Linked DNA regions of Homo sapiens: region 1 is linked to region 2. The links come from fine-mapping of genetic effects on gene expression. Tissue or cell type: macrophages. Region 2 holds a variant in brackets; the other region holds the start of a gene. All regions are shown on one strand. Distances are between the middles of the regions.

The links. PIP is the estimated chance that this variant, and not a neighbour inherited with it, causes the effect.
Region 1: it holds the start of SNRPF, and the variant in region 2 is fine-mapped to the expression of SNRPF in macrophages (Alasoo 2018, PIP 0.95).

What each region holds. Positions count from the first base shown.
Region 1 is chr12:95,857,049-95,862,048 of GRCh38, forward strand. It overlaps SNRPF (small nuclear ribonucleoprotein polypeptide F), which reads left to right and starts at 1,904. Exons shown (of 4, transcript NM_003095.5): 1 at 1,904-2,028; 2 at 4,120-4,245. The coding sequence starts at 2,026. It overlaps SNRPF-DT (SNRPF divergent transcript), which reads right to left and starts at 1,791. Exons shown (of 3, transcript NR_135014.1): 1 at 1,706-1,791. RefSeq lists enhancers at 1,613-2,228, 1,627-1,686, 1,737-1,796, 1,917-2,146, 2,177-2,226.
Region 2 is chr12:95,815,744-95,823,544 of GRCh38, forward strand. All of the region lies in intron 2 of SNRPF-DT (SNRPF divergent transcript), which reads right to left. LINC02410 (long intergenic non-protein coding RNA 2410) reads left to right here. Exons shown (of 2, transcript NR_135016.1): 2 at 7,346-7,571. Among named protein-coding and RNA genes, the nearest start is that of LINC02410, 17 kb to the left of the region's middle. The variant CTT/C (reference allele first, on the strand shown) is at 3,566.

The DNA.
Region 1 (5,000 bases), 40 kb after region 2:
TGAAAAGAAAAACCAACCTTAAATACACTATCTTTACAGAATGTGTTTACTGTAGTATTTCGTTTCACTTCACTGAGAAAACAGCTAAAGAGTCAGGCTTCTAAAACACATATTGAGTCTTTGAAAGGTAGCTTCATGAAGTAGAAAAAGCAGAGTTTTGAAACCCAGGTATGTGGTCCTGAGCAAGCTATGAGGCAGAAGAATAGCGGCTGGAAGCAGGGAACCTAGGGCCCATCCATGCTGACTGGGTATCAGAGGCTACTCCCATTTCAACCCCTCCTTTTTCTGCGTGGCAGTTGAAAAATGAAAGTACCTCTTATTGGTCCCCTCCCGCAACCAATCAGACTGGTTGTGGGCCAATGGGCAACCTCTAGAGGGTATTTAAAGCCCAGAAAATTCTATAACCAATGCTCTTGAGCCGCTTGCACCAGGCGGTGCCCACCCTGTAGAGTGTACTTTCATTTAAAATAAATCTCTGCTTTCGCTGCCCTGCTTTGTTTGTGCGTTTTGTCCAATTCTTTGTTGAAAACGCCAAGAACTCGGACAGCTACCCTCAACTGGTAACAGTTACCTGCTGGGCCTACTTCCTCATCTCTTAAACGGGGCTGTCACCCCGAATCAGACAGTAAGGTAAGATTTCCACGATTGTTGAAAAAGCCTGACACATAGTAGGAACTCAAAGTCTATACAAAGACTTAAAGTTCATAAAACAATAGACAAACGGAGAAATCCACTGAAGTTTAGGGTGAATAAATCTAATAACTGTTTGGTAAAAACTACACTGACAATCATTGTCTGGTCAGTGTTCAACATTTACGTGAAACACTGAGCTTTTACAAGGCCAAGCCCCGTTTTACGTTAAATTCTCGCAACCACCCTGAGGATGGTTCCGTTTTTAAAGCCGCGTTCCTGCCGAGGAAACAATGGCCCTCGGGGTTAAGACACTGCCCAACACCGGCCGCGCCTGATAGACGCAGGTTCCGAATGCAGGCCCCCTCCAAAGTCTTGCCCACTGCTCCACAATGCCTCAACACCCAACATTTCATCCTCAACTCCAAATCCATCTCTTCAGGGCCGCAAAAAAGCGTTACTTCCCAAAGGGCGTGTTCTCCAAGAACTGCATTTAGCATTTCAGATCAGAGTGACCCGAACTCAATAGGATTACGACAAAAACTAGTGAGATTCAGATAACACCGTTACATCGAAAGTTTTAATCCGTGACAGAGGAAATATTGCTTACGCCCTTAGGTAATTTCAAATGCACGTATGAAGGCCGTGCGGGTTTCTGCAGGCGAAGCAAAAGAAAGGTGGGGCCGGCAGGGTCGTGGGGCGGGGGTGGGGCATGACACCGTATCCCAGACGCAACTCGACCTCGTTTGCAAGAAATTCTGTATCCAACTCTCTTCAGTGCGTTTCGCCGCCCCTAGTCTAGTCTGGCTAGCCCCCAATTCCTTTAAAAGGGGTTAAAACGGGTGTTGCAGAAGAGAGAACACTCAGGTAGAAAGGGCCTGCGGCAGAGGCGCCCCCAAATCATGGAACCTGTTGGAAGAGTGAGGAAGGAACTCTGGGACCCCGAACATTCTCACGGGTGTAAAAAGACAAAGTAAATCCCCATTAGCCAAGTTGGGGAGAAGTCACATCCGTTACACAGCCTCTCCCAGACCGCCCTCTAGGAAGGACACCACATTTAAAAACACCGGCCTGCCTCCAGTCCTTGGCTGCCTCACAGCGATGCTCAGAGCCGGTTTCCCAAGGTCCGCGCGCCGCCTGCAAGGCGCAAACCCAAGCCGCTGCTGGTTGCTAGGAGATACTGGGCCAGCCATCTCCTCCAATCAGCACGCACCTCTTTGCGTCCAATCACAGAGGCAGGAAGGGCCGTGGTGGGAGGTGAAAGGTCATAGTCCTGTTTGGCGGCCATTTCTCTTGAAACTGCGGCTCGGGACCTGCGGTACCTGCTGTAGTCACGAGGGACGGGCGGCGGCCTGGTCGGCAGAGAGTAGCCTGCAACATTCGGCCGTGGTTACGATGGTAAGGAGAAAGAGAACGGCGGGAGAAGCGGGGAGAAAGAGAAGGAGGGAGACCAGCCTCGCGGGGCCTGCTGGTTCCTTCGCGCGTTTCCCATTCATCCGCGTGAGGCGCCGCGCACCCTGTCGCCAGCTCCTTTCACTCTGCTTTTAGGTTTCTGAGGCGCGTGCTCCTCCCGATGCCTTTCTTTTCCTAGGAGTGCCCGTGCCTTCTTCTCTTTGTTTGAATCCGGGCCTGGGGTATTCTTAGTTGGGGCTATAGGGTCGGGGTAAAAGTCAAAGAGAATTTGCACTTCCCACTTAACCACACTCCAGAATTCACTTTCATTCCGTGAAAGTAATGATACGGCCATGCTCTAGATTAACTCACTTGGGTGGGGAAGACAGACATTAGTCAAAAAATAACAAGTATGTAATTGCAAATAATAAGTGCTAAGAACAATGCAGACAGGAGGCTGTGAGGGTGCGCGTTAGACATTAGAGGCTTAGTCAGAGATGGCCTCCCTAGGAGGTGGAATTTAACTCGAAGCCTAAGTGTCATGAAATACGACCCTTTAAAGAGCAGGAGGAGGAGTGTACCGAGCACAGGGAATAGGAGCATAAGACCTGCGGCCGGAAAGAAAGCTTGGTCATTTGGAGAAATTGACAGAAAGGTATAGCCACTTGCGCGAATAGTGGTTAAGAGATGGTATCGGAGGAGCAGGCGTTGGGCAGGACCTCTTAGGCTGTATTGGGAGGTTTTGATTGTACTCCAAATCAATTTAAAATGATTCGGTTGGAAGCCATTGGATCATTTTAAGCAGAAATATGACAATCTGATGTGCACTTTAAAAAATCATAGTTACTGTGGTGGATAACAAATTGGAGAATGAAAACTGGAGACCCATTAGGTTATTGGAGTAATCGCCATATCAAGATCACTCCGAATATGCTCATGTTAGAGGGGGTTAGTAGCCAAGTTTCTTAGTTCTCTTCTTTGTTTGACTGGTGAGTGAGCAGAAGAGGGCAAAAACCGAAATCACTGGAGATGTTAATGGTTTGCTGAATAAATAGACATTAAGTAATTGCTGTAAGTAAGAGGCGGTGCTACTGACAAAGTCAGATAGGACCTAGCCCTAGCTTCCCCAGTTAAATACTGTCAAGCGTGATCTGCCCTCTGCTTCCTTCTGTAGTTTTATATTTGGGGCTTTGACTGACAATGCTGAATTGTATGTCCCCAAAACCACCTTGTTGCATCACTCTTCCCTCCTTTTACATAAGTAGCTAGCCTTGCCTGGAACAGCATTTTTTCCCGCTCTGGAAATAAACTCTTATCCTTTAAAACTGAGGTATTACTTATTTCAGGCAACCTTTCCTTTTTCCCCTGGATTGCTTTGGTACCCTTGTGCCTAGTATATCTCCTTTTACTACAGTGCAGCATGCAATATAATTATTTGTATGTGAGGAGTTCCCCTCCCCATCTCCAACTTCTTGACAGGGACTCATTTATTTATTTATTTATAAGAGACAAGGTCTTGCTCTGTTGCCCAGGCTGGAGTGCAGTGGCCTAATCATAGCTCACTGCAGCCTCGAGCTCCTGGGTTCAAGCAGTCCTCCCACCTCATCCTCCCTAGTAGCTGGGACTACAGGTGTGCACCACCACACCTGACTATTTTTGGTAGAGATGGGGGTCTCACTATGTTGCCTGGGCTGGTCTTGAACTCGTGACCTCAAGTGATCCCCCGGCCTTGGCCTTCCAGATTACTGGAATTACAGATACGAGCCACCCTACCTGGCCCGCTTTTTTTTTTTTTTTTTTTTAGTGCCTTTATCTTTGTTTCTTTAGAGCTCAGAACAGTGAGTGATGTAGGTAGTCAGTGTATCTTAAGTGAATAGTCAGTGTTTTGTTTTGATGGGTTAAAGGTGAAATTGGCTAACTGGATATTTAAATTTCCCTGGTACTCTCAACAAATAAAAGTGAAAATTATGTACTAAAATAATAAGGAGTCAAAAGTTTTCTTCATTTGCATACCACAAAATATTGGTGATTCGGTAGAAGAGAGTTGGTGGTGGGAGGAAAAATAATTAATTAGATCCTTTTTTGTTCTTTGTGCAGAGTTTACCCCTCAATCCCAAACCTTTCCTCAATGGACTAACAGGAAAGCCAGTGATGGTGAAACTTAAGTGGGGAATGGAGTACAAGGGCTATCTGGTATCTGTAGATGGCTACATGAACATGCAGGTAAGCTAAAGAGCTGTAAAGGTCATAACATTGCATTTATTTTGCTTCACCTTATTTCTCAAAGGTTTAGTCTGACTAATAAGAATACATACAATTAAATTGACAAATATACGGCAAAATTCAAAAATAAAGTCAAAGCCAGGAGGGATACTGTGATATACTAGGTACAAGACATGGACTTAAACCAGAATTCAGCTACAGATTTTATTCCTAGTAGTTAAAGTAGGAAGAGCTCAGACACTTGATTCATAATAATACCATAAGGGAAACACACTACTTTGCTGGAGAAAACAAAACATTTCTCATCATTTAGCCCTGAAAGAAAGTTTTCAAGTGAAATTATTGAGTCTTTTAATGAATGCTAAAGGCACAACACCAAAGCTATTGAGGAAATTCATTCCTTCAGGGGAAAGACAGATCTGCCAAAGGAATTGAACTGACTGTATGTCTGTCAAACGAGTTTCTGTAAATGATTCAGCCATGTGTTTTGGTGGGTTTTTTTGTAATTAATTATCTTTTTATTGTGGTAAAATATACATTACAATTTTGCCACTCTAACCATTTTTAAGTGTATAATTCAGTGGCATTAAGTACCTTCACATTGTTCTGCAGCCATCACCGTTGTCCATTTCTGGAACTTGTTTACCATCCAAAAGTGAAATTTTTTGCCCATTAAACAATAATTTTCCATTAAACAATAATTTTACAATTAAACATTAAACAATAATTTTCCATTCCTTCCTCCACCTAACTAA
Region 2 (7,801 bases):
TAAAACATACCCAAGTTTATCTAATTTCAACCAGAAACTCTCAAATGAAATGCATGAAGTAAAGTGACATCTAGTGTTGGTTAAGTGGCAGTGAAATATGTGTCAGGACAAGGCATACTTTAACTTTCTTTGAACAGACTGTTAAACTTGGCTTTGTTAAGTTGCCAACTCCGGAAAGCATAGTTTTGCTTTTAAAAATATTTTAGAGTAATTCTGAAATAATCTGAATTTAAATGCTAATAACATTGTTTTTATTTTTTCAAAATAAAATGCTTAACGCCTACAGAAAAGTCTAGAGAATGAAATAACAGTTACGTATCTACCACCCAACTCTGTCAAATCTTAACGTTTTGCTTTACTTACATCAGATATTTTAAACATAAAATGTAATAGACACATTTGATGCCTTATTAACTATTTCTGATTTCATGTCCATCTTGTTCTCTTTAGAAGTAATCAATATTTGGTTTATTATCTCTGTGACTTTTTGTATTTTTATTACATATTTGTGTACACATAAAATTTATAATATTGCACATATTTTATAGCTGATATAAGGGATACCATATGGTACAAATATTTCTGCAACTTACTTTTTCTAGTTTAATATTATGCTTTGGAGATTTCGTGATATTGGTCATCTAACTTCAGTCATTTACTGTAACTGCTGTATGTTAGCATTCCATTGAATGAATTGTACAACAATTTATTTAATTTACAGCTGATGGACATTCAGAGTGTTTTCAGTCTCTTGCTCTTACAAACCATGCTACAGTGAACACTCTTATACGTGACCCATTGTGCACACATTTGCGAGTTTCTCTAGACTGCACAACGAGGAGGTATTGCACAAGTGTATACTTTCAAAACATCTCTAGCTATTGAGCATTTGCTCTCCAAGATGGTTGTACCAATTTACACCCTAGTAGAAGTGTAAGAAAACTTCTGTGGCTTCACATTCTCGCCAGCACTTGGTATTGCCAGGCTTTTTAATTTCTGACAATCTGCTTGATGTAAAATCTTATCTCATTGTGGTTTCAATTTGCATTTCTCTGACAAGTAGTAAAACTGAGTTACTTATTTATTTATTTATTCATTTATTTTGAGACAGTCTCGCTCTGTCGCCCAGGCTGGAATGCAGTGGCGCGATCTCGGCTCACTGCAAGCTCCGCCTCCCAGGCTCACGCCATTCTCCTGCCTCAGCCTCCCGAGTAGCTGGGACTACAGACGCCTGCCACCACGCCGAGCTAATTTTTTGTATTTTTAGTAGAGACGGGGTTTCACCGTGTTAGCCAGGATGGTCTCGATCTCCTGACCTTGTGATCCACCCGCCTCGGCCTCCCAAAGTGCTGGGATTACAGGTGTGAGCCACCGCACCCGGCCGAGCTTTTTAAAAATATGTTTTTACTACTGAAGTTTCTTCCGTGAATTGCCTATTCCTATTCTATGCCTACTGGATTGCTGGCATTTTCCTTTAAGTACTTGCTGATATAAGTACTTTGTAGGCTTGATATATTGCAAATATTGTTTCTCAGTTTATGGCTTGGCTGTTCACTGTGTTCATGGCATCTTTTCATTTTAAAGCAATCGACTTTGGCTGGGCGCGGTGGCTCATGCCTGTAATCCCAGCAATTTGGGAGGTCAAGGCAGGTGGATCACCCGAGGTCAGGAGTTTGAGACCAGCCTGGCCAACCTGGTGAAATCTGTCTCTACTAAAAATACAAAAATTAGCCAGGCGTGGTGGTGTGTGCCTGTAATCCCAGCTACCCAGGAGGCTGAGGCAGGAGGATCACTTGGAACCCAGGAGGCAGAGGCTGCAGTGAGCCGAGATTGTGCCACTGCACTCCAGCCTGGGCGACAGAGCAAGACTTTGTCTCAAAAAAATAAATAAATAAATAAACAAAAAATAATCAACTTTATGAATCTTTCCCTTTTTATTGCTTATTTTAAAATCTTTTTCCTTTTTTTTGAGGCGGTGTCTTGCTCTGTTGCCCAGGCTGGAGTGCAGTGGCACGATCTTGGCTCACTGTAACCTCTGCCTTTGGGGTTCAAGTGATTCTCCTACCTCAGCCTCCTAAGTAGCTGGGATTACAGGCGTCTATCACGATGCCCAGCTAATTTTTGTATTTTTAGTAGAGATGGTGTTTCACAATGTTGGCCAGGTTGGTCTCGAACTCCTGACCTCAAGTGATCTGCCTGCTTCGGCCTCCCAAAGTGCTGGGATTACAGGCTTGAGACACTGTGCCTGGCCTTAAAATCTTTATTAAGCTTTTCTCCTTTATTTTCTCTTAAAATGTTTAAAGTTTTTTTTTCCTTATTTAGGTTTCTAAATTATAAACTTTTCTGTATTGTGTGAGGTAGAAAATTCGATTCCTTTTGTATCATGGATAATGACTGTCCTAGCATTATTTATTGAAGAAACCATCCTTTCCTCATTGTTCATTTTAGCTCATCACCAAAGTCACTTATGAAATTAATTTGGGGCCAGGCACAGTGTTCACACCTGTAATTCCAATACTTTTGGAGGTCAAGGCAGGAGGATTGCTTGAGGCCAGGAGTTCGAGACTAGCCTCGAAAACAAAGTGAGACTCCCATCTCTACAAAAACTTTTCTAAAATTAGCCCAGCACAGTGATGTGTCTGCCATTGCATTATTTGGGAGGCTGAGGCAGGAGGATTGCTTGAGCCCAGGAGTTTTAGGCCGCAGTGAGCTTTGATGGCACCACTGCACTCAAGCCTGAGTGACAGATCTTTAAAAAAGAAAAAAATAATAACTTTGTAAGATTTGTCTTGCATAGCACTACCTGGCTCCTGAGGTTCCCTCAGTTAAGTCAGGTGTGTATACTGACTTCCACCTATGGGTTCATCCCTACTCACATGCTGAGCCTGTTTTGCTATCTGTTGTCTGAGAAATATTGGTCAGCATCAGGACCATTATTCCTAGTGTTTCCATACTCCATTCCTGCGTTCTGGCCATTTGTTTTTTCTTGGGGTCCAATCCTTGTTGTTTGCGCTCCTATTCTAGGTTCTGAGCTAGGATGGCCAACCATCCTGGTTTTCCCAGGACCAAACTACCTGGTTTCCCCAAATGCAAGACTTTATGTGCTAAAACTGTGACCATCCCTGGCAAACTTGGCCTGGATGGTTGGTCACTTTAGATGTATCCTGTGGTTTTTGCTTCCTCTTGTGTTGACCTCTTGACTGTCTAGTTTGGTGTTTTCTCTGTGCTCACAAATCATATTTACCTTGAACTTGTATTCGTTGAGTGCCTATGATGTCAGAGGCTGTATGAAGCATTTTCATATGTGGTATCTCATTCAACCGTTAGACAGCTCTGCATGATTTCCTTTTACAGATGAGGAGGATTTTATGTAGTTAGCCAGGATCACAAAATTAGTGACACAAAAGAATGAAACCCAAGCCTCCTGACTACACATTTTTTATTTCCACCAAACTTGTCATCTTTCCGGCCCGAGTTGCATACTTGGGGCCTCCACTCTGTACTAACTGAACTTCAGGGTGAACTCCATTATGCCTTGCCTAGCCTCTTGCTGTCCTTCATACAT[CTT/C]TTTTTTTTTTTTTTTTTTTGAGACAAGGTCTGGTTCTATCTATCGCCCAGGCTGGAGTGCAATGGCACAATCTCAACTCACTGCAACCTCTGTCCCTCTCTATCCACCAGGCTCAAACTATCCTCCCACCTCAACCACCCAAGTTGCTGGAACTACAGGCACAAGCCACAATGCCCAGCTAATTTTTGTATTTTTTGTAGAGATGGGGTTTGCCATATTGCCCAGGCTGGTCTCAAACTCCTAGGCTCAAGTGATCCACCCCTCAGCCTCCCAAAGTGCTGAGATTTATAGGCGTGAGCCACCACACCCAGCCTATCCTTCACACATCTTTAACCTAATATGATAGTACTTGAAGTCAACATCTTCTATTGCAAAGCACAAATGACAAGCCCATTTGTTATGCAATGGTATAAATATCTCAAATGTTTCATTAGGATAAGCACTAAGAAGAAAGATAAACGTGAATATAATAGCATGGCACATCACACTGCCACATCAGATTGCATCCCTCCAGTTAATATGTCATGGCATAGGATGCGGAATCTTTGCATTTTAATGTATTCATTTCATCAATATTTCCTTTTTGGTAGTTTATTTAAGAAATCCTTCATTAAGTTATTCTCCTTCAATTTCTCCAAATACCTAATTTAATTAATTTGTAGATTATGAATACAAAATATTATTTGTAGAATATTAGTTTCCCAAATATTAACAGAAATTAGGTGTGTATGTGGGATGGGAGGTGGGCCAATTAGTTTGGGAAACAAATATCTTATTATAGAACTTCTCAGTCTCTGTTTTGCTAATTTGCAGTGTGACTTTCCTACAGAGAGATAGAGTGTGTGGCATTTTTCAAATGCTATGAATTTTCCAAATGACCATGACACCTTTTTCTTTTGTTGCATTGGTTTTGTTTCATAATTTCCCATGTGCCTTGGAATATCCACTGGGAAACGGTGTTTTCATCTCTAACAGCACAATACCCTCCAGAGGGCAGCAGATTCCCTTGGCATATAGCCAATCATCTATTCATTGAACAGATTGATGAGGGACCTGGAGCATGTTATATTATTATTCCAGTCAGGGATGTAAAATTTCTAGTTTCTGTAACAGAGAGAGGCATTAAAATTTAGCTCAAGGCTAATAAAAAAATAAATTATTGGCACTGAGATATAATACAAAAAAAAATCCAATCATATCTCTGATGGATTACAATGGCATGCATTGTATTGTAAAGTCCAGATCATGTCTCTATTTATCCTCTTAGTCTCAATCAAACAACAAATATTAGTTGAGTGTTCCATAAGGAATAAAATGAAATATTACCATTAGTTCATTTCTCAAGGAACTAAGAGATCAGAGAGACAGTTAGATAAGGCAACACATTAGTTCATTGGATTTCATTGGCTGCAAATCAGAATCACTGGGGGACACTTTTAAACAATAATAATGCTCAAATCTCACCTAAGAACATTAAATTTGAATCTTTGTGTTTGGTTCCAGGCATGAGATTTTTTTTTAAATTATACTTTTAAGTTCTAGGGTACATGTATACATGTGCCATGTTGGTGTGCTGCACCCATTAACTCGTCATTTACATTAGGTATTTCTCCTAATGCTATCCCTCTCCCCTCCCCCACCCCATGACAGGCCCTGGTGTGTGATGTTCCCCACTCTGTGTCCAAGTGTTCTCATTGTTCAATTCCCACCTATGAGTGAGAACATGCGGTGTTTGGTTTTCTGTCCTTGTGACAGTTTGCTGAGAATGATGGTTTCCAGCTTCATCCATGTCCCTACAAAGGACATGAACTCATCAATTTTTATGGCTGCATAGTATTCCATGGTGTATATGTGCCACATTTTCTTAATCCAGTCTATCATTGATGGACATTTGGGTTAGATCCAACTCTTTGCTATTGTGAATAGTGCTGCAATGAACATACGTGTGCATGTGTCTTTATAGCAGCATGATTTATAATCCTTTGGATATATACCCAGTAATTGGATGGCTGGGTCAAATGGTATTTCTAGTTCTAGATCTTTGAGGAATCACCACACTGTCTTCCACAATGGTCAGACTAGTTTACACTCCCACCAACAGTGTAAAAGTGTTCCTATTTCTTCACATCCTCTCCAGCACCTGTTGTTTCCTGACTTTTTAATGATCGCCATTCTAACTGGTGTGAGATGGTATCTCATTGTGGTTTTGATTTGCATTTCTCTGATGGCCAGTGATGAAGAGCATTTTTTCATGTGTCTGTTGGCTGCATAAATGTCTTCTTTTGAGAAGTGTCTGTTCATATCCTTCCAGGCATGAGATTTTAAAAACATGTTTTCAGGTGATTCTAACGAGTGGCCAGGGTTGAGACTATTGCATTAAGAGGATAAAAAAGTATTTTTGGAAAGAGGTTTCTGACCTTTTCAAGCAGGTGGAGGAATTTAGAATCCTTTTCCCAGGGAGAATGTTTCAAATGTAGAAGAGTACAAAAAAGACAATGGTCATTCTTACATCCTCTGTTCAAAGTTAACCTTTGTTAGCATCTTTATTCTTTCTTAGCTGTCAGAATTGCAAACAACAAAATCATACAAAACCCACATCTTATAGTTCCTAAAGTTAACCTTAAAAAACATTTCCTAGGAGAGCAAAAGACATCATTTTTTTCATCTCCAAAAATGCATTATAACTCACCCTAGTTAACAAATAGTCTGGCATATTCCAAATAGATCCACTGGGCCATAGACCTCATCTAACAAAGATGAATTCTGTTCATTTGCTCTGTGAATAGAGCTAAGAGGCTTATTTGTGCAAAGACTAACTGATGAGGTGGAAGAGAGAGCAAGACAGCAAGAAAATATTAGTGAATATATATCTTCCAATTGCAAAGAGATATGGAGCAAGAACCTGCCTAGATGGAAGGAATGAGAACTATAGGCTATAGTTATGGATGGGAGGTTTTCTTTACGCAAAATTAACTAGCTTATAGTGGGAAGTGAGTGGATGGAAACGTGTCTCATTAACATCATGTTCGAACTTACCATAAGCTCAGTGAGGGTCAATAACCTGATAGGATGGCTGTTTTTAGGGCATCATAGGACTGAAGAAGACTTCCTGACAACCGTTAAAAATCTTTGAACTAGAAGACAAACTTGAAAAAAAAATACAAGCAGAAATATGTCCTCTGACAGCTGATAGGTATTTTAAGCAATGGATCCGATCCATATTTTGCAAAAGGCTCTAGAAATTAAACTAAAAATGCTTCACTAGGTCTAATGAAGTATATCTTGAATGATCCAGAGGAAGATATTATTTTCATCCCCATTTAATAGATGAAGTATCTAAAATCAGAGAAACTGACTGATTTTCTCTAGACTACAAGCTAATAAGTAGACAACTGGGACTTGAAACCAGGCACACTGATTGTCTCCATAGTCTGTGTGCTTAACCACTGCATGGTACTGCCTCATAACTTACAGAAAAAAATTCGCATTGCATTACAGAAAACCTATATATTCACACATTACATTTATTACCCATTCTAAGGGACACACTATAATGTCTCTAAATTTGGGATACTACTAGTAATCAATGGTGTCTATAATTTTAGTTGATACATATATTAATACATACCTGATATCTATAATTATAATCAACAAACAATTGGTATATAGAACAATGGTGCATCTTTGAAATAGAGTAAAATAAATCTCATAGGCACTTGTACTTGTTCTTTCTCTAAGGGAAATGTTTGTGAATTCAGAAATCCTTTTCTTTTCTAGGAAAAGTGATGAATTAATTACAAATTTCTGCAAATGGAAGTTCATTCATTTATTTGGCCACCAAATATTTTTTGAGTTTGGAGATCAAAGCAGTAGAGTCTCAACTCTGAAGTCAGACAGACCTGGGTGGAATCCTGGCCATACCATTTTCAAGCTATGTAACCTCGAAGAAATTCTGTAATCTCTCTAAACCTCAATAAAATGAAAATGTTCACAGTGTCCTATAGGTTTATTGTGAGGATTTAATGCAATAACTCATTTAAGGGATAATACCTGTTCGGCATATTAAAAACGCCATCTATTAGTATCATTATTTAAAAACCTGTTAAACATCCCCATTTTGTTACAGTGTTCTAAGGTTTGTTAACAACCTTAGGACAATGAAATAAGGATAAAATTTTGCCCTCATAAAGCTTATATCCTCATAGGAAAAGACACAATTATTATTGTGTTCAT